Homo sapiens: one gene and its partners. The protein of the gene in region 3 purifies or fractionates together with the protein of the main gene of each other region. This does not show direct contact. Each region holds a gene or a part of one and is shown on either strand. Other genes may lie near its edges.

Evidence for each region.
Region 1: the proteins of EN1 (region 3) and TLE3 purify together in Homo sapiens (affinity purification with mass spectrometry; 2 studies listed by BioGRID and IntAct, with this or other methods). This does not show direct contact.
Region 2: the proteins of EN1 (region 3) and TLE4 purify together in Homo sapiens (affinity purification with mass spectrometry; 2 studies listed by BioGRID and IntAct, with this or other methods). This does not show direct contact.

Annotation. Positions count from the first base shown.
Region 1 is NC_000015.10:70,052,898-70,060,002, forward strand, and holds part of TLE3 (transducin-like enhancer protein 3), read right to left. Parts: intron 6,564-7,105; coding exon 6,513-6,563; intron 5,919-6,512; coding exon 5,766-5,918; intron 5,395-5,765; coding exon 5,262-5,394; coding exon of another isoform or gene 5,253-5,261; intron 4,762-5,252; coding exon 4,562-4,761; intron 3,478-4,561; coding exon 3,401-3,477; intron 2,402-3,400; coding exon 2,152-2,401; intron 1,789-2,151; coding exon 1,541-1,788; intron 478-1,540; coding exon 330-477; intron 1-329. UniProt on the Homo sapiens protein: Transcriptional corepressor that binds to a number of transcription factors. Inhibits the transcriptional activation mediated by CTNNB1 and TCF family members in Wnt signaling.
Region 2 is NC_000009.12:79,707,919-79,715,023, forward strand, and holds part of TLE4 (transducin-like enhancer protein 4), read left to right. Parts: intron 1-199; coding exon 200-332; intron 333-674; coding exon 675-868; intron 869-1,704; coding exon 1,705-1,781; intron 1,782-7,105. UniProt on the Homo sapiens protein: Transcriptional corepressor that binds to a number of transcription factors. Inhibits the transcriptional activation mediated by PAX5, and by CTNNB1 and TCF family members in Wnt signaling.
Region 3 is NC_000002.12:118,844,599-118,852,170, reverse strand, and holds the start of EN1 (homeobox protein engrailed-1), read left to right. Parts: upstream 1-4,522; 5' UTR 4,523-5,003; coding exon 5,004-5,865; intron 5,866-7,572. UniProt on the Homo sapiens protein: Required for proper formation of the apical ectodermal ridge and correct dorsal-ventral patterning in the limb.

The DNA of each region.
Region 1 (7,105 bases), on a different chromosome or scaffold from region 3:
GGATCATTTCAGGTGCCCACATCAGACCTAGGAGGGTGCTACTATTATTTCCATCTTGTGAATGAGGACGCCGAGGACAAAGTGCTCAATAGCAGCAGAGAATGAATCGAATTTCCACAGTTGGGCCAAATGTGTCCAACCCCAAGGTCATCTCCATCTGTTTCACTGCTGCTTCCTCCAGGAAGCCTTCCCAGATGGCTCAGGTTGGTCCCAAGTCTCTTGGCCGTGGCCACTCTGTGAGGGTCCCTTTGTCCCTGACCCAGCCACTGGGGCCCCGGAGGGAGGGAACACACTGCTCTTTGGGAAGGGAGGAGTCTTGGGCCGCACACCTGGGAAGTGAAGTCATGCTGCTGTAGCTGTCGGCCCTCCCGCAGGTCCCAGGAGCGCACCGTGTTGTCCAGGCCCCCTGTCCACAGTTTGGTGCCATCATGGGAGATGTCTATGCAGCTGGCCCCATCTGTGTGGCCCTGGAACTGCCTACGAAAGCCAAGCAGGGAGGAGGGTGAGTCCCGGGAACCACAGACTGCCAGGTGGCGGCCATCCCAGGGGCAGTCTGAGCAGAAGAGAAAACTGAGGCCCAGAAGAGTGCACTATGCGCATGGTCCCTTAGCGAGCTTGCAGCAAAGCTAGCCCCGGCCTCTTTCCAGTTCCAGGCCTCTTTCCAGTTCCACGGAAGGGTTTGCCCAGGGACAAGTCCCCTGGGAAATGGGGGGGGGAGGTGAAAAAGGGACCTTGCACTAGCCTTCTGAGACTGAGTCCCTCCAGGGTGGGCCTCTGGAGGAGGTGGAGCTGGAGGCTCAGGAAGGTGAGGAAGGCAGGAAGGCCCTGGGGAAGCTACGTGTGAGATGACTGATAAAGAGAATGCAGGGCCCCACTGCCTTTAGGACACAGCTCCTTAACTCGCACTCCACACGCCCTCAATTTGCCCTCTTAATCTATCTCTTCATCCTGCATGAACTATGGGGCTGAGGCCATCCATGAACACGCTGAATAACACACACAGCCCATGTATACAAGAGTCAGCTGGGCCAGGCACCCGTCTGCCTTTGCGCTGCGGCACAGTCAGAGGAAGATGCTCCACTGTCACTGTTTTACACAGGAAGAAACTGAGCCGCAGGGGTTCAGCGACTTGCACTAGGTCATAGTGGAGGCAGGATTCAAAGCCAGCAGTTTTGTCCTGAGGCTTGTTTAGCTACCACGTGATGTGGCTTCCCAGTCGGGTCTCCCTAATCTGGTCTCTGGGGCTCTGCTCCCAGACTCTCTGCTTGCTCCACTAATCTGACCTCCACTTCCCCAGACATGCTCCAGCTCCACTTTCTTCCCAGAGCCCTCTCCAACTCCTGGGCCCAATGGCCCTCCCTCCTCTGTCCCTCGCATAAGGCAGGCGGAGCTGTCTTTTCACCTGTGCATCCCTCATCCCAACGGTTCTGGCCACCCCACAGTGCCTCAGACAGGGCCAAGGTCACAGCAAACAAGACCAGGCAGGATGGGTAAAAACTTCCCCAGGACGAGGCACTAATGCTCCCTCCTGCCGGCTCACCTGACCAGGGTCTGGTTGTGCAGGTCCCAGACAGCAATGTTCCCATCGCTGCAGCAGGAGAAGCAGACTTTGGCGTCAGGGCTAATGGCCAGGGCATAACAGGCGGGAGCCGAGGACGTCAGCTCGGCCTTGATGCGGGGCGTGGGCGAGGCCAGGTCCCAGATGGTGAGCGTGCTGGCCTCGCCGCCCACGATGAGCGTGCGCCCATCAGGGAGCAGCTTGCAGGAGCGGATGTAATTGTCCCTGTTCTGGAGGGAGAAGGGGCAGGGCTGAGTGCTGCCTACTTCCCCTCCTGGGCACCAGGAGAGTCCTGTCCAGCAACACCGAGCACCCTCACCAGTCCTGCTTACAGCCTCCCCCTATACCCAGCAGCTGCCAGGCTGTCCCCATTCCTCAAATTCACAACCCTTTGATCTTTCATGAATACCAGGAGGTCAGAATCAGCCCCACACACAGAAGGCACAACTGAGGCTCAGAGAGGTTAGTCAGCTTGCCTAAAGTTGCTCAGCCAATACGATGCTGAGCCAGGCCCTGGGGCTCTCCCCTGTGGCCCAGGCTGCCCCATCCTCCTACACCAGCTGGAGGCGGCGCAGCAGCCCTGGGATTCTCACCAGGCAGTCCAGCTGGGAGATGGGGCTCTTGCTGCCTGGCTGGCTGATGTCCCAGATCTTCACGCAGCCCTTGCCACCTGTGTAGACGTGCCTCGTGGGGTTGCTGATGGTCACGGCACACACCACCTCCCCGTGGCTGAGTGTGTTGATCTGCCGGGCGTGCCTCGGGATGCCGGGGCCTGCCAGGGCGTCGTGGGGGAAGGGCACGGGCTGCATCTGCCCATCAGCACTCACATGGAATGAGTACGCTCTGAAAAGGTGAGAAACCGTCACTGCTGCCATCCACCCCGGCCCCTCAGAGTTCCCATAGGCCTGGCCCAGGTCATCTGCACTGCCCCCGACTGGCTGCCCTGCCTCTAGCCCCCTCTGCTCTGAAACCATTCGAACCCAGTAACCCCATGTACTGGGATGGCTCCATCGAGGTAGACATGATTAACAGACCAGCTTTGATTTTTACACCCAGTTATATATCCTTGCTTCAAATCAGACCAGAAACCCACAGGTGTCCTGGAATGCCCTTTCCCACGATCCATACATTCCCCCAACATGCCAACCCTGGAAAGGGCCTGGCTGAAATGCCACCTCTTGCTTTAGGAGCCGGTGGTATTAGGGAAGGGATCTGCTTGCCCCTGCAATAGCAAATGGGAAAGTCCATGTCAGAGCCTGTGGTGAGCCAGCCTGGCCTGCCTGCTGTTTCAGGCTCTGGTGGGTGCCCTCTCAATCAGCATCTAGATTCTCGTTGACAATTAGAGGACTGTGTCAGGCAGTGTCTCGGCATTATCTGTAGGCTCAATCTTTTAGTTTCCTAGCAACCCAAGGAAGTGAAGGGCCGGGGAGAGTGTGCCCTCCAGGGGAGGGAAGCACTGCTGACAGGGAAGGGCCTGCGACCAGCGGCACTGGGGCCTTCCCAGCAGGTCGAACCCAAAGGAGTCGGCAAGGCCCACCACAGCTCCAGGTGACTCGGTGAGGAGTGTTCCTTCTCTCCCAGCCCAGTGGCCATGTACTTAGCTAACTCCATGGCTCCTCTGTCGGAGGGAGCTTCTGTGGGTGCTCAGAAGTGTGGCTTGGCTACAGTTTCCTGGGGTTGCAACCAGCCCTCGGTGCCTCTAGAGGGACAGATACCTTTCCAAAGGGAGGTGCACCAGGGCAAACCCTTGGTCAGGGGATGAGGGGCGTTGTTGGAATTGGGGGTAGAGTGCTCTCTCCTGCCCACCCTACAAAGCATGCAGTAAGTATAGCCAAAGCTTACGGTTTTCCTCCAGGAATGGAGGCCAGGCTTGAGGGGAGGCCTGTGGCCCGCATCGGGGGGTGAGGGTCAAAACCAACCTGTAAAGCAAGGCAAGACAGCCCTCCATCAGCCGTGCTGCCACACACCCCCACCCCTGCCTCCTCCACCACCCACCCGGGGTCCTACCTGCACGGCTCTGCCACTTTGTAACCCAAGAGACAAGCTGAGCAGAGCAGAGCCCATTGATTCAGAGGAGACACAGGCCCAGGACAGCCCGTGGCAGGGAAGGGGTGACAGTGCAGACCCCACTGTGAACCAGCATCCTCCCTGTTCTGCAAGGCAGAGCTGGCCCTGCCCTACTTCTTTCCTCTCCTGTGGTCCTAGTGGGCCTGCCAGTGGAGAGGAGGCCACCCCAGGTCCAGGAGGTAAAAAGGAAAACTGTCTCCTGAAAAAGGGCCCCTCTCCCCGCCAACCCTAACTCTTCTTTTTATTTTTATTTTTTTGAGATGGAGTCTCGCTCTGCCGCCCAAGCTGGAGCGCGGTGGTGCAATCTTGGCTCACTGCAACCTCTGCCTCCCAGGTTCAAGTGAGTCTCCTGCCTTCACCTCCCGAATAGCGCCTGCCACCACGCCCGGCTAATTTTTGTATTTTTAGTAGAGATGAGGTTTCACCACGTTGGCTGGCCAGGCTGGTCTCGATTTCCTGACCCCAGGTGATCCACCCGCCTTGGCCTCCCAAAGTGCTGGGATTACAGGCGTGAGCCACTGCGCTCGACCCCTAACTCTTATTATTTATTCACCACAATAGAAAGTCTTGTACAACCAGTCCCATCTACGAGACCCCTGCTCCATGGACATCACCTGACTTGCCCTGGGATTCCTACCCCCCAGAGCTGGGAAAGCCAGGTGTCAGCCCCGTTTTGCAGACTAAAAGGGAGGCTGCCTTGCATGAGGTCACAGGGCGGCTCACAGGCCAGTGGGGGATGGAACTCAGGTCTGCTGGCCCCAAAGAGTGTACCCTTCCAGCCAAGTCTCAATTGTTTCCGATACACCTTCCCACAGGGGCAGCTGCCTGGCCTTGAGACCCTGAGGGGCCCCTTTAGCATGTGGGGAGCACCCGTCCAACCACTGGCTCCCCACACCACGCCCAGTCCCCAAGAAAGGAGCCAAAAGGTCTACGTACAGCTCCAAAGCTCACCATTGGCGATCGGCCATAGGCAGCGGCTGCAGCAGCGGCGGCGGCGCTCATCTGGGGTGGGATGTTGTGGAGGCCGGCGTAGGCGCCAGGACTGGTGAGGGAGCCGTTCATCTCATGGTGGCTCATCATGGCGAAGGGCGCCGCATAGGAGCTGGTGATGGAGATGGGCGTGCGCAGAGCCGAGGCTGCGAGGGGTGGGCGTCAGGGAGGTGGGCCTTAGGTGGATTGGGACATGGCCATGGCCGCCTCACCCAGCAATAACCCTCCCTGCATTCTTAAGCTGCCTGCTCCAGGCAGTCCTCTCAGACTGAACCCACCCAAGTGGGATCCCTGCCTTCAGAGCCAAAGAAGCTTAGAGCTTGGCAGATGCACCCACCTCTTTTTACAGAGCAGGATATGGAGGCCCAAATGGGCTTGCTTAGAGCCTCACTGGACTAATGACAGGGGTGGGAACAGATTTTGGGAGCCCTGACCCGTCTGATGCTGCTTTCATGTCTGGCCCAGCAGGGGTCCCAGAAACCCTGGTGTCACCTCCTCAAATCTGACCGTGAAGTCCCCAGGGGCAGGCCCTGGGAGACACTGCCTGTGCTCTATCCCATGCGTGTGTGTCACCCCTGCCCTGGCCAAGAGCAGACCCCCTCCCCCCAATCAGATTAACCCAGCCCATGGTGCCTACCCATTATACCTATCGGGTCCATGCCCGGAGGTTTACCCGGCATCGACCTGAGCCCTGGGGTCGTGCTGGTGCCTGGAGTTGGGGCGTCGTTCCTTGGGGTTGGTGTGTTGGACTTGAGCCCAGGGGTGGAGGATTTGTCGTTCTGAAGAGGGGAGATGCAGAACAAGGGAGGCCATGAGGCTTCCATTCTCCTAGGAGCCGGGCACAACTGGTGCCGGTCCCAACGTGAAGCCCAGAGCCAGACCCTTATGAAGCTTCTGCCGAACAGCCTCTCAATCCTTGCCCAACCTTGTTTGGCAGGGACTGGGGTGATCACTCCCATTTTACAGACGTAGCAACCGAGGCTCAGAAACGTTAACTCATTAGCACAGGCCCAGCAGGCACAGAAGGTAAACCGGGGCCAATCACCCACCCAGCTTCTCCCACTCCACCCCTCTGCCTGCCAATCGGCACCACCCCAGCTCCAGTCCCTGCCGCTCCCTTCCCACTCCCTTCCACCCAGACCCCACATACATGACCAAGGTCTTTGGTCTTGGAGGAAGGTGTGCTACTGGAAGAGGCCACCGAGGCAGGGCTGGTGGGGGCATCTTTTTTCAGGCTACGGGCCTTGTCCAGCCCATTTTCAGGAGGGGAGTGTGCCGGGCTGACCCGGGGCGTTGCGGGGTCCTGAAAACACAAGTGATGCAGAGATGCACTGAAAGCAACAGCCAGCCTCGAGGCTTCCCTGCTCTGGGAGTGGGAAGAGAGAGGGCATGGGCGATGGGAAGACGAGCTTGGCTGAAAGACTGGGGGCCCCACAGTGAGGAAAAACTAGCTCTTAACCATCTGGTCTGACTGAGGCCTAGGGAGGGTGGAAGGATGGTCTTCCCAATGTCAAACACAAGTTCAGGACTTCAATCAGCATGGCTGGGTTTGGCCAAATGTAGATGCTCTCCAGCTCCTCCTCAGGCCCCTGAGGCTGAGACCCTGGGGGGACGGAGGATCACGGGGAATAGAAGATGGCCCCTACCTGGGATCTTTGGGGGTGTCTCTCTGGAGACCCATTGCAGGAGGCCCTCCAGGCCCATAAATGCCCAGACACCATGCAGCAAAGCCCTGCCCTGCTCCTCTTGACCCCCTGAGACCCCAAGACTGGAGGCCTTGTCTCCCTGCTCAGGCTGCCAGTAATACTAGAACAGACAGAATAGATCCCACCCTGGGGAGGAATAATTCCAAACCATGCCAAACCAAGAGCCCCCTTGCGACCGGGCCTGCCCATACCTCATTGGAAACATCCACCACCAGATCATCACTCTTGTCTCCATCACTGTCCTGCAACCAAGAGAGAAGCCAACTGGTCAGTAAGAGGCCACACTTTCCCCACCCCTGACTGAGCCCAAACCACCCTGTCCTTCTACTGGCCAGGACCTGAAGCCAGGCCAAACCCCAAAGTCCATGCTTTCTACTCCAGCCCTGCCCTTCAACAGGCTCCACTCCAGCTCAACACGGTCTCCCCGTGAGGCTGTCCCCTAGCCCAGGCCCCGGGTTACTCCACTCCTGTACCCACTGGGCAGCCGCACTGACACCCGCTCCATCATAGCAGTTCTAAGCCCCTGCCCCCACAGCCTGCCCTTCTGCTTCTCTCTGAAGCCAGAACCTTCTTCCCAGCTGGTTTTACATCCACCATCCTTCACAGTCAGTGTGCTGCTCTCACCTGGTCATTCCCACCCATCTGTGTGGGATAGTAACTTGCCTCCTCTCACAGAAACACAGCTGAGTGTCCTTTGGGTGCTCAATGTGTCCAAAGCCACACAGCAGCCATGTGGCTGAAGAGGGCTGGGTGCAAGACCGCTGAGGCCCTGCACCATATCCTC
Region 2 (7,105 bases), on a different chromosome or scaffold from region 3:
TCTTCCCAAATATTAGGTCTGCTGTCTCAAGGAACTCTTTTGTTTCTTTGTTAACTTTTCTATTAAAGAAAATCAAGGCCCAAGCTGAAGAACCTCTTCCATTTCTTTTCCTCCTTTCCTTTTCTTTACCTTTTTACTGTTTAACGTCATTGTTAAAACCATGTTCTAATTGCTGGTATATGTCATTTCATCTTGTTAGAATGAAAAATCTACTACTCCCGTCTCAAAGTCCAATACCCCTACTCCACGAACTGATGCGCCCACCCCAGGCAGTAACTCTACTCCCGGATTGAGGCCTGTACCTGGAAAACCACCAGGAGTTGACCCTTTGGGTTAGTAAGAAAAAAGTTTTTTCTATATTTTTATGCTCGTTTTTAAGAATTTAAAGCAATTTAAGGAGTACAGTACATTAAAAGTGCTAATGACCAGCATTGAATGGCTGTTAGACAAAGTTACTTAACCTGAACCGAGCACCTGGGACCAACCTTGTCTGGCACATGGTAAGTGTTCAATAGAACAAAGTGAATGAGTGAATTCTGAAGGCTTGAATGACTTTTGAGAATATTAAAATAAGCTCATTTGAACCATAGATTCTATTTTGTGACATGTTTACAAATGTCTTCACTGTTGTTTCCTGTGTTCTTCATTTTTCTTCCATCCATTTTGGTTTGCAGCCTCAAGCCTAAGGACCCCAATGGCAGTACCTTGTCCATATCCAACTCCATTTGGGATTGTGCCCCATGCTGGAATGAACGGAGAGCTGACCAGCCCCGGAGCGGCCTACGCTGGGCTCCACAACATCTCCCCTCAGATGAGCGCAGCTGCTGCCGCCGCCGCTGCTGCTGCTGCCTATGGGAGATCACCAGTGGTGCGTTTGTGAGCTTCACAAATAATATTTTAGCACACGGAGGATTGTCATGCTTGATTGATTGCGACAGGGTCTCGCTCTGTCACCCAGCCTGGAGTGCAGTGGCATGATCTTGGCTCACTGCAGCCTCTGCCTCCTGGGCTTAAGCGATCCTCCCACCTCAGCCTCTCAAGTAGCTCGAAAAAACAGCATGCGCCACCATGCCCAGCTAATTTTTAAAATTTTCTGTAGAGGCAGGGTTTCACCATGTTGCCCAGTCTGGTCTCGAACTCCTGGCCTCATATGATCTGCCTGCCACAGCCTCCCAAATTGCTAGGATTACAAGCATGAGTCACCATGCCTGGCCTATCTATTTTTTAATGTAATTTATATAATCTAAGGTATTTAGAGATCTGTGGGTATTTATAAGTTAAGCTACATGTGATTATAATCTTGAGGTCCATTTTCTTTTGTAAGGTGAAGAAGTTTCTTTTTTATTTTATATGTCTTTTTAAAAGAATACTAATTTTAAATTTTCCAAAATGATACTAATTTTGGAAACTTCAAACCTACAGAATTAGATCACATAGTATAATGAATGTAATGACTCTTTGGTTCTACCATGAGCTTCAATAATCATTAGTATAATTTTTTAATCTGTGTTCCACCCCCAAGTATGTTACCATTAAATCCTAAACATTGGTTATCATTTCACCAATAAATACTTCTGTATATATCTCTAAAACCTTATTTTTAAAGGATCTATTCTCCCAGGTTTTAGAATAGATTTTGAGAAGGATAAAACAAGTCAAATGTAACTGTGCTTATTTCTGTTGTTTGCTTGGGAAAAATTCTAGGTGGGATTTGATCCACACCATCACATGCGTGTGCCAGCAATACCTCCAAACCTGACAGGCATTCCAGGAGGAAAACCGTGAGTACCTTTTTGCCTCTGTGCTCATTGTGTGTCAAACTCAGGTCCCTTGCTGGCCCCGTAGACTTAGAATACCACTAGACAGTGTTGGGGGAGTTCCCATGACTTGTATTTTTTTACCTTGCAAGGTATTTTTCATTTTCTCTTAGCACAAGAAGAGAAGTAATGAAGTGGGGTTTTGCATTGTAAAATTTTGAGCTTTAATATGTAAATGCAAATTGCAGAGGCATCTCCAGTAGTCAGGTCTTCTCTACATCTGTTGCAGATTTCAAGGCAATTCTTTGTTCCAAAAGTCTGATTATTATGTGCAAACCTGAATGTTCAAAATTTGAATATGTTGGGAAAAGACATGCCAAACCTCAAAGGCTGAAAGGAAATAAGGGCACTCTTATGCTTAGTTCTGTTTTCAGAAAAGGTGACTTGCTTAGTTGGCTTCTTATACCGTGCTCTGGGCATCTGGAGCCTCTGTATTCACAGATTCCTTGAGTTAGGAAAGACAAAACACAACACACCAGTTGTTCTAGCCTTCTCTGAACGGATCTCATTCCAAATACTTTATTTTAATCTAATGCACCTTTTTATTACTACCTAATCACAGTTGTCTCTGCTAATTGGCTTCATCTTCCCAGAAACAAAGATTTTACTATAAAGTAGCACTGGCTGTTTCTTTAAAATCCCAGCTGGCTGCTTTCTCTCGCTTCTCCTTTGGGAAGCCTCCCCCGCAGATCCTCCTTGCCTTGTTAGTCACCTGTGTGTGTGCATTTTTCTCATCACTCTTTCTGTGGGCATCCCCTCTGTCACTACACATGCCGTGTATGTGCTGCCTCCCCAGTCTCCAGGGCTATCCAGACCTGACCCTCAGTAGCAGCTCAAGGCGCCTTCTCCCAGAGGCTTCCCTGGTAGCTTGCCTGCCTTGAGGTATTTTGTCCTTACTGTCCTTCTTCCTGCAAAACTTTCTGTGGCTTAGTGTCTCATTTAGTTATCTAAGATGTCATTATGTCAGAGCGTTCTGCCCTGACAACCCTATTATCCCTCTTTCCCTTCCTCCCTATTCTTTCCTCTTCTACTACCTTTTTAATGCTTTTTTATAGCCATTATCTGCCTCTCCCTCTTGACTATAAGTTCCATGAAAACAGAACAGAACTTTCTGCTATTCAGTTATAGAAGCAGTCTCACTGCCTAGAATGGTACCTGGTTCATAGTGGTGCTCACGGTATGGATTTATTCAGGGAATGGATATGTGCTGATTTCTTTCTTCTCGGACCTCCCATTGCTTGTTTATTCACTCCCACACACTCGGGCACTTAGTTTTCACCCTGGTGTTAATTGCGTGCCCTCTTCTCCCCACATCCCTTCAGTGTTGCCTAACCTAGACCCTTTCTTTACTTTCCATCTGAGGAATCCAAATCTCAGTTCTTCCTTTTGTAGCATATTAATACTTCTCTACAGACTCTATCCTAACCTTCCTTTGTTGTATCAAGCACAGTGCTGGCTCCACAGCCAAGTTGCTTGGTAAATATTTGGCTGATTAATAGGGGAGAAAAGACAAATTAGAGTTCCTCAAGAGTTGAAGGTATAAATATCAATTACCATAAAATTCTGTGTACCTGTGTGTGTTTTGCAAATAGTTGTTGACTAACAAGTCTTATTGACCAAGAAACTTTGATGTATTTGAAGGTGAAAGTTGGGTCTATTTCAAGCAATGCTAAATAACAAGGTTATACAATTAATCAAATAATGACTCAGATACCTACAAGTTCCATATGAACTTGTGGGGAAAGTGGAAGGGTTCCTTTAGGGAAGAAGTACTATCCCTTTTTTTTGGTTACTTCTTAGGTAACCAACAGTTGTACCCAGAGCTACAGCATAACCACTAGAGCAAATGAGATGATGCTTCTTGCCTCAGCTGCTGCTTCGAGGGGCAAGGGGTGTAAGTGTCTTTAAGGAAACACCTTGGCTAAGGGATTTGGACCAGTTAAACCACTGTGGAATCACAGCTGCTCTGACTCAGATGGTGCTTCTGAGTCTTGGGCTGACTTCCCTTCATCAGTTTTAACTTTCGATGTTATAAAATGTTTAAATGTTTAAGATCCTTTAGGGTGGGTTAATGGATTGGAGGATTGTTGAGAATTTTTGTTTATGAGAGTGACAGAGTCACATCTACTGCAGTTGGCAAATGACACTTTACCAGGAAAATGACACTACTAAAAAGCATGTGGTGCAGTCAACAGAGTATGGTTTTGGGAGTGTGACAGATCCAAGTTTGAATTTAGACTCTGCCAGTTGAACCACTGAGAAGAGTGGCTTTATGCACAATTTCTTTGTGAGCTTCAATCAGCTCATTCATGAATCAGGGATGGCCCCTCCTCAACAAGAAGGATGTGAAGATAGGAAGTAAGATAATATGTTGTGTGTTCATTCAGTGCCACATTTGTTACATGGTGGCTGTTTAGTCAACCCCAGCATTATTTCCCTTTCAGCTTTGTCCCAGCATATTATTCATTTTTCAGCTACTTATGTAGTAGGAGGTACATTGTGTTTTAGGGGCAGAAGTGACCCAAGAAGATGGGTCATTGGTGTGTCTTTATGTAACAGAGCATGAAGACGTATAAAGTTACATTCACTTATATGCATACAGAGATAATATACTTTTATTATAGATTTTTACAGCAGAAATGAATATAACAGTTATGTGGCTCTCCAGATCATAAGATACTGAATTGTGCAATGTTGTCTTGTGCATATTTTTCAAGACAAAACTTTTTTAAGTGTGCTAGAAAATAAAATAAAAAATCACCTAAAGTCTTCCTCCACCATACATACCCACAATGTAACTACCTTTCTCCAGAAAGACTTATAAAAGTTATGTGTCTCTGTTCTAATTATTTCACACAATGAATTGCTAGATATGATCAGAAATTATAATTAAATGCATGTTCCAAATTAATAAAATGGTGTTTATTGTATAATTCACATTGAATCCTCTTGTCTGCTCAGGTGAATTAGCAGAGGTTCTACTTCATATGTAGTTGGAATAACAGCATAGTTTAATTTCAACATAAGCCAAAAATGGCCCTTCTCCTTCACCTGCTACTCAAATGAGACTTCTATGGCTAGTGTATAACTATTTGATTAACATCACGGTACTAATTGTATGAGATGTGACATGTGAACACAGCAAAAATAAAAGATCTCACGTTAGTGGATTATAGGCTGCTCACAATTCAGAAATCTGACTCTTTTGCATTGATTTATTTTTATAAAGCAAGATTTTCAAATGAGAATAATGCCTGATACATAGTAAAAACCTTCAACGAGTATTTGTTGGCTAACTCACTGGTCTGTATGCTACTTAGAACAGAATTTTCTATCGTATTTCAATGTAAAATACAATAACCAGACCTCTCATTGTGACCTCAAGGTCGAAGCCCATCTTGTGACACATTGGAAATGTGGAGAAGGTACTGTGCGCGTGAGAGATGAGCACAGCATAACAGAACTGGGCCTCAGAGAGGAGAATGAGGGGAAGGTGGGAAAGCCAGTGACCTTCTTTAAATATGCTGGGTCTTTGTCAAGATGATAATCCATATATAACAAGTTTGACACACATGTTTTTAAAAAAGCAAATTGCATGTGTCTGGATTGTTTAAAGTGTAGTTATGTCAGAGAGTCCAAGCCTAGCATTTTCTTCAACTGTCTCTTATTCTCATCGCCATGTTTGTTGGAGAGCCACTCTGCTCGTAGCAGCTTAACCTGTGGTGTGTGTGTTCGTGTTGAGAGGAGGTCAGGTCACTCTATTTCTCTGACTCCCTGCACCCTCTCCCTCCAGCCCTGTATTTCTAGTTATTTGTTGGGCATCTTAGCTAGGGATCTTGGGTGTATGTTACTTGCACCACAAATTCATTATATTCAGAAAGTACTTTTGTAAATTAGGTCCTCTTCCCAGTTTGCCCTTTTTTTGTTAACTACAAGTACCATGTTTCTTTTTTCCTGAGCTCAGAAACTCAGTTACTCTAGCTCCTCCTCAGATCTCGTCAATTTAGTCCTACAGGATTTTATATCCATTGTACCTTCTAACTTGTCATCCTTGCCCTTGCCTGGTTCAGGACCCCCAGTACCTCTTACTTAAATTGTTGGAATAATTGTTGTTGTTTGTTGTTGTTGTTGTTGTTGTTGTTGTTTGAGAGAGAGTCTCGGTCTGTCACCCACGCTGGAGTGTAGTGGCTCAATCTCAGCTCACTGCAACCTCTGCCTCCTGGGTTCAAATGATTCACATGCCTCGGCCTCCCAAGTAGCTGGGATTACAGGCACATGCGCCACCACACCTGGCTAATTTTTATGTATTTTTAGTAGACATGAGGTTTCACTGACTGGTCTCCGAACTCCTGACCTCAAGTGATCCATTCCCCTCGGCCTCCCAAAGTGCTGGGATTACAGGCCTGAGCTACCGCGCCCAACAGGAATAATTGTTTTTAATTCCTCCTGTCCATCCTACTCCTTGCTACCAAGTTTATTTTATGAATAGCTTTGCCCAGTAATGGCACACTCCCTTTATCCCTCAAAAATCTCTTCAGTCAATTCTGGGAAGGTCTCAGGCTGGCATTCTGGTCCTTCCCTTTTATAGCATTACATTGATTTTAATTATATAGAGATATAGATCTGGTATGTTTTTTCAGACTATGCTTGGCCAGTTCCTCCATCCACCTACTGTGTAGTTATTATTGAATGAATTCCTGGATTAAAACCAATTCAAGGATTTCCCAGCTCATTTTACCTCATCCTTTTGGAACTTTTGCTCTCTGCTATTCTTGCTATCTGGAATATTTTTTCCATCTTTCTCTTTACTCGATGGTATCTTTTCATTCTTTAAAAACCCATCTCTATTACCATGTCTGTCTCTCATCCAACATAAACTTTCTTTCCTTTTCAAAACACTTCAGAATACTTTCCATTAGAATGTGACCTGATATTGTCATTTCTGTACTTTTCTCTCATCATGCTAACTAGATTGTTAGTCACTTGTGGGCAAGACCAGGTGCATTACCTAGTTTTGTATCCTTAGCATGACGTTTGCGTCAGAGTATATGGATGGGAGGTACTTAACACATTGTGCATTAAATTAGTTAGAAACAGAGTAGCCCTTTGCGCCTCGGTTTCTCTGATTCCTAGCAATGTTGACTTCCCTCATACCTTCCAGGAGTATTTGCTAGTTACAGTCAAAGAGTTTATCGAAATCTGATAATAAGTATGTACTAGAGCTTTATTATTTCCAGTTCTGAGTGCCTTCTATGTATACTAATAGCAAACAGAGGGCCACATTAATG
Region 3 (7,572 bases):
CCAGCACCCACCCACCCCCACATTATTATGGGCTCCAGATGAAGACCGAAACCGCGAGCACTAATTGAATTAGTCTATTGAAAAAGACTGTCAGGTACAATGACGTGACTCGAGGCCCCACATTTCCCAAGGTCCATAGGCTTTGGGGACCTGCGATGTATAGTCTGACCTTGTAGCTCATAATAACGCGGCACTTGTAGCAGAAATCTCCTCGCATTCACTCCCAACAAAACCGCTGGTCATCCAGTCCCCGTAGGAAGGCTGCACGCTATTGTGTTGCGACAACTCATTCATGTCCCGCACCACGAGGCCCCACCGCCATCTGATCTACACTCGAAATGCGATTACCACCCTGTGCATGCAACATGCTCCTACTCCCAGCCCATGGCGCACACCCCTCGCCAGGCTGCAAGAATTTCTTTCGTAATTCTCCTTCTGGTCCTCATCCTCGAAAGAGAGGTGGAAACAAGCAGGACCCTGGCATTTGTCTTTGCTTACACAAAATCCAAAATTCTATGGACACACAGGCTGGTCTTCTTTTCTGAACAGCATACACCAAAACCCTCAGCAAATACATTTCTTCATGCCTGACTAGTGGGGCTGACTTGGGTGTACACATTAACATTCACATACATACAGGGGCCTCCTGCCACACACAACTACACACACACACACACACACACACACACACACACACAATACTTTTATAGACTAATTTTCTCTCTGGGTGGCTCTCACATACCAAGCAAATAAACACAAATATACACTCTGTTCCCCACAGCCACGGGCCACTCTTCAAGACCGCTGAGCGTTTTTCCCAAAATTAGAAAAGGAGAGAAAGAAAGGTAAAATTTCTCAGCCTTCACTCTGATAAACACATGCCAGTCTTCCGACTATATGATCCCCAAACTCCCCTAGCTAGCAGCTCCTCAAACAAGTATGCATCATTCTCCTCTGTTTGGCCAGGTGCCTTTTGCTCACTGGGAGCCCCTGCCTATCCTCAGAAAATGCAGGAAGTCCAAGGACTGGAGAAGGGAAGGACGGTTGGGGTCTCTCTCTGTCCTATTTACCCAACTCCCGATCACTGAAGGCCTCGTTGGGACCTCCTTCCTTCAAGTGAAAAAATGTAGCACCCCTCCCCCAACTTTGGCATTTGAGACAAAATAGAATCTTTATCTTTCTTGTCGTTCTCCACTTTTATCTGGGCTATCCCCAAGAAAAGGGTACTTGGGGACAATCAACTTATTGCAGAGACGCAGCCCAGTCCATGGCCTTCTGTGCGCCTCTAGCTCAGGTGACTGCATAGCTCAGAACTACAAGGCCATAGAAATACGCACTGGGTACCCCCACACTTCCCTACCTTCGGCCCAAGAGCAGATGGCATTTGGAGAAAGGGGCTCTATTCCATTTGAGTCAGGCTTCCCCACCTGCTACCTGCAGGCCCACCTCTCTGCCACCCCGGCCTGGGCATCTATCAAGTTGAAAGTAATTCCTTAGCTCCCAAAGGCAGAAACGAGTACCCCCAAAAGGACCGCCACACAAATATACCCACTCGTGCATATACAATCCTTTACACACACCCTAACCCTTTACTCACATACTTGTACACACAACTCACCCTGCCCGTAGTTCCTCACTCACACGCCCAATCCTGGGCTCACTCAGAGTCCTGTGAAACCCTCACCCATCCCTCTCGGCCAACATTTGTTCACTCAGCCCTCACACACTTCACTCGCATGCTTGACAAGACGCCAATGCGCTCACACAGAGTTCCCAATGGCATGTTCATTTGCAGGAGGGAGAAGAGGGCGTAGGGTCTGGGTGGAGGTCATGGAGCGCAGAGCGGCGCGGGGTACCGAGCGTCCGGCCCAGGCCGGGCCTCGGGGAGGTGGGGGGACGAGCCAGCGCGCAGAGTGCCGCCTAATCCAGCTCGAGCTCGTGGGCCGCGGGTGCATTTATCATCCCATTACTGTAACAAATCCGGGCTCCACTACATGAAAGGTAAAATGAATTACCGACGTTAAGCCGTCAATAAAGTCATTTCTGTAAATGGTGTCTCCAAAGGGCCGCCGTATTATTCAGCTGGCTTTATCAGCTGGCTGGAAATTACGTGGAGGAGCCGGGCCGCGCGGCGCGCGGGGCCGCTCACTTTGATTAAGCGTCTTGCCAGCGCGATGTGACAGAGCTTTTGACCAGGGTTTTATTCACAGGCCTGTGATGAACGCCAAGCTGATCAGGCGGAATGAAGAGTAATTAAAACCTATAAATTATCTTCCGCAGCCCTTCTCGAGGCGTCTCCTGCAGGCGAGATAAGGCGTCGAGACCCTATTTACCGCGCTGAAAGGGACCGCGGCGCACAAAAGCTACGCAGCTAAATAGGATATTGATAGTGTCCTAATTAGAATTTAATTAAGTACCCACGCTTGCTTGCGGGATAAAGATTTCAATTTTGCGAACTTAAATATAAATAAAATCCCACCCCCATTTCGGGGAGAAGGGGTGGGGGCGCCTGGAGATTTCGGGGAGCCCTTGGGTGTGCTACTGAAGAGGACTCGGGAGACTCCAAGGTGGGGTTGGAGGCGGCTTGGGAAGGTAGAGAAGACTGCAGCGCAGCGTTAGGGAGAGAGGTTTTCTCCCCTAGGCTGCAGCGCAAGTCTAGCCGGGAACTCAGCCCCGGAAATCGGGGGACCCTCGCCTGCTCCCAAGATGCGGTGAGCAATATAAATTCCTGCTCTCCACCAGCCCTTTTGAGAAACTTCAGCTACTGTGGTGGTGGTTCGGCTTGTTGTGGGTTTAGTTGCATGTTCCTCCTAGCCTAACCCTCTGTGACTTTTCTGGAAAACTGGAGGTAGGGGGATTCTTTCGCATGTCACAAATAGACAATATTTCCAAAGGGATCCTTTCTCTACTGTCCCAGTTGCGGAGGGCGTTCAGGGCGAGGAGGTCCGCTGGAGCTCTAAGATGACACCCCCGAAGGCCTCGTTTGCTGACGCCTTTCTCGGCCACCGCAGGCTTCAGCATAGTCGGATACTGGTCCTCCAAAACGAATCCGGAGACAAGTCCCGCAGGTGCCTAGAGCTTCAGTCCACACGCCACCCCCGTCCCTCACATTCCCGGTTATGAGAAAATTTTGGGGGTGCCTCGACCAGGAAATAGCGAAAAAGAGATCGGCAGACGGGAGAATGATAGCAGCTGGAGGAACGGCATTTCCCTCAAACTAGGGAAGAACGCACAGAGCTGGAGCCGGAGGCACCCAGGGAGTTGGGAGCAATCCCAGGAAATTCAGTCACCCGGCAATTGAGGGAAACTCCCTGTTCACAACTTCAGCTAGCCAGGGCAAATACTTGGGGTGCAGCGCTTTCATTTATTTGATTTTACTTTGCAGGGAAATCTAACACAGAGGTTACCCTGAACTCTAAAAGCTAGGGCCTAGCGCGCATCCGCGTTCTGACTCGCCGGCCCCGGGGCCCTCCTGAGATTAATCTGCGTTGCCCGGACTCCCACTGCCAGGGAAGGTCCAGGCAACTGGCTCTGGGGCTATTCCTAGCCCTCTGGGCTTGGCTCTATGGCGCCAGGGCAGCTCCAGGGTGTTGTCGAAAGTCTGGACCGGGAAGGGCATGGGTGCGGATTCCCCACAAAGGGAAAGCAATGCAGCGGGCCGGCAGGAGACGTACAAACGTAAACGTGCGACGCTAGCTAGGCGCAGCGGGCCTTTCAGATTTTGCTATTTGTGAAAAACAAATTGCGCCTCTGAAAGTAACCAACTCTAGGTCTATTTCACATCACCGACCTCCCTGTCTCACTCCCCCTCCCTCCACTACACACACCCAAACCCACACCCACCCACAAACACACAAACCGGCAGTGACAACAACCACCCATCCTTCAATAACAGCAACCAGAGACAGAGGAGAAAATAAAAAGCTGAGTTTCTTAGGCGTGGGGGTGCAAAACAGCCAGGCTCCTGCCTACTGCCCCTGCTCCCGTAGCTCACAGACCCATAATCCTGCATTTCTCTAACAAGTTGTTTATGGAGTTGCTTCTCCATTTGCCTACATCCCAAAATTCACCCCTCCCGGGTTTCTTCTGCCCCCTCCTGAGTCCCGGCCTGAAGGAGGGGGAGGGACGCGGGTGCGGGCGCGGGTGGGGGAGGGCGGACCCGACGCACAGGGCCAGCGCCGAGGCGCCCCCTCTCCGCCAGCGGTTGACGCCCCCGGATTATTTATCCGCAAAGTCCCGCGCGCGCCCATTGGGCCGAGGCCCGAGTGTCAGCGCGAGTCCCGGCTCGCCATTGGCTCCGCACACGTGCGGCCCTGACTCACGTGCTTCCGGTTTGAAGGCAAAAAGTGTGCCTGGGTGATTTTTTTTTTAAGCGAGAGAGTTTGTGCAAAGATCCGAGCTGTCAGAGATTTGAAAAAAAAAAAAAAAAAAAAAAAAAAAAAAACAGCCCGGCGCTGGCGGAGACGCGCTCTCCCTGCAAAAAAAGCAAAGGCGATTAAAGGCGCTGCCAGCCTCACGCTCTGGGCACAGCTGAGCGTGACACTCGGGGAAGTCAAACCCCTCACTACTGCCTAGGAAGATGGCTAGACTTTAAATACTATTTTTTTCCCTTTAAGAAAAAAATTATTGGAGCTTTTTTTCTTGCTTTCTTTTTCCTTTTCTTTTTCTTTTTTTCCTTCATTTTTTTGGCCGTGGCTTACTCCCCATTTAAATCAAATCATTGAATCTGGTTGCAGAAAGAAAAAAGAAATAGCCAAGTGTCTCCATATCTGGATGTCTACAAATTAGAGAGGGAGAGACAGCGAGATCTATCTGCTAGATAAGAACGAGCGATCCAGGCCAGACGCCTGAGCTTTTTTCCTGCACCCGCCCCGTGCCTTCGCTGAGGCTTCGCCTGCCTCCTTCCTCCGCGCACCCCCACGGGCCGCTGGCAAAGTGGGGTGGGGAGCGAGGCGGTGGGGGCGGGGGCCGGCGCGGCGGCCGGGGCGGCGGGGCGGCCGAGCATGGAAGAACAGCAGCCGGAACCTAAAAGTCAGCGCGACTCGGCCCTCGGCGCGGCGGCGGCGGCGACTCCGGGCGGCCTCAGCCTGAGCCTCAGTCCGGGCGCCAGCGGCAGCAGCGGCAGCGGCAGCGATGGAGACAGCGTGCCGGTGTCCCCGCAGCCTGCGCCCCCCTCGCCGCCCGCGGCGCCTTGCCTGCCGCCCCTGGCCCACCACCCGCACCTCCCCCCACACCCCCCGCCCCCGCCGCCTCAGCATCTCGCGGCGCCTGCTCACCAGCCGCAGCCAGCGGCCCAGCTGCACCGCACCACCAACTTTTTCATCGACAACATCCTGAGGCCGGACTTCGGCTGCAAAAAGGAGCAGCCGCCACCGCAGCTTCTGGTGGCTGCGGCGGCCAGAGGAGGCGCAGGAGGAGGAGGCCGGGTCGAGCGTGACAGAGGCCAGACTGCCGCAGGTAGAGACCCTGTCCACCCGTTGGGCACCCGGGCGCCAGGCGCTGCCTCGCTCCTGTGCGCCCCGGACGCGAACTGTGGCCCACCCGACGGCTCCCAGCCAGCCGCCGCCGGCGCGGGCGCGTCTAAAGCTGGGAACCCGGCTGCGGCGGCGGCGGCGGCCGCGGCGGCAGTGGCGGCGGCGGCGGCGGCCGCAGCAGCCAAGCCCTCGGACACCGGTGGCGGCGGCAGTGGAGGCGGCGCGGGGAGCCCCGGAGCGCAGGGCACCAAATACCCGGAGCACGGCAACCCGGCTATCCTACTTATGGGCTCAGCCAACGGCGGGCCCGTGGTCAAAACTGACTCGCAGCAGCCTCTCGTATGGCCCGCCTGGGTGTACTGCACACGTTATTCGGATCGTCCATCCTCCGGTGAGTACCCAACTCCGGGCTGCGCCATGCCTTCTGGCCCCGCGGACCGCCCCAGAACGCCAAGCTGCGGCGCTAGGGAGAGCAAACCCGGCCTCGGGTACTCCAGTCTCTCACGCCTGCTTCCTCACCCCAGTTCCAGTCACAACCGAATGTTCATCCAGCTATGCGATCCTGGCCTCTGCGGCCACCACCCGAGAAGCTACAGCTCGTGGCACAGGAGGCTCGGGTCTCGATTCTTTGATTTTGAACTCTGAATCCCTGGGGCCTTCTTTGTCTCTTATCTTTATTATTCTTAGGAAAAGTACATAGTCAGTGATTTTCTTTCCAGGGTGTTTAGATAAGGCAGGAAGGTGGGCCTAGTGATGTGTGTCTGAAATCCCACCAGCCTGATCGTCCGAAGGCCAGATTTGACCAGAGAAGGCCTTGTTCAGAAAAATTATATTCACTGTGTGTCCTTACAGACACAAACACCATCTCGATATTTTCTGCGGAGAGACCGTTTACATTGATAAACATGGGAAACACAGGAAGACAGGGAGGAAAGCGTCTGAAAGCCGTCCCTCTCCCCCGGCTGGGTAGCGAAAAGAGTCTGACCCGGGTGGGTAGAAACCAGGGAAAGGCAGTTGCCAAAAAGGTGGGTGCTGGCAGCCCCTGGTTTTCTGGAGCTGAAAAACAGTGGGAGAGGAGAGAAAACAGGTCAGGCTCAGGCCAGGAAGCGTGTCCAAGGGCATGAGAGCCAGTTTCCTCCGTAGCTTCTCCGCGGAACGGTTCCCGCATCCTCCCCGCGCGGCGCTTTCCTTTTTTCACCCGCACATCCAGCAGACTTCTGGCATCCGTAGGCCTGTTTTTCTCGGCTTTCCTTCCACCACTTTTCCGTGTGCCCCTCGCGCTTGGCGAACCCGAGGAGGAGACCTGAGCTGGGCTCCGGGAGAGAAGGCCAAGGCCTGCCTGACGCCCCGGCCCGCAGTGTCTGGGAGAGCGGCAGAAGCTTTGGCCCAAGATCAGCACTCCAGACACCCGGTCCGGCAGGGGGCCGGGAACAACGTAGCCACGCGCCGCTTTCCTCTGGCTGGTCTCTCGCCGCCCCACAGCTGCCGGCCGGGCGCGGATCGATGCGCACTATCAGCTCCCGCCATCTCGAGCCCCGTTATTGACACGTCGGGCTCCCTGAACCTCCGAAAAGCTGCTTTGATTGACTCGCCTGATGGATAGAGTGATTGAGCTGTCAGGCTGCACGGCTCGGGCTGGCCGGGAGACTAGGAACGATTTTATTACAAGAGTCCGTGCCTCTGCACACACATACAACAACACTTCAACATGTCCCGGATGCAGAACGGGCAGTGGGGCCTTTTTGGGGCTGTGTGCATTTCTTGGGCTATTTCTCCCCGCTCAGCTAATTACGAATCAAAACCCCAGTTCTGCTCTGGAGAGGGCCTTGGCTTTGTTCTTGGCCACTTTCCTTCTTATGGGCCTGGGTAGGTAGGGGACCAGCTCCTTCTCCTGCTTGGGCAGTTGGGGGAGGAGGGGATGAGCCTCGACCCAGATCTGAGTCGCTGCAGTATGCTAGGCCTGGACTCTTTGTCATAGGACAGCTGGTTACCCCAGCCTCCTGCCTGCCCCAGGAGTAGGCTGCCCAGCCTTCCTCTCTGTAGCTAGGTTTGGAGATGCCGGCAAAGATCCTTCTTTCCAGACAGTTTTAGAGATGAA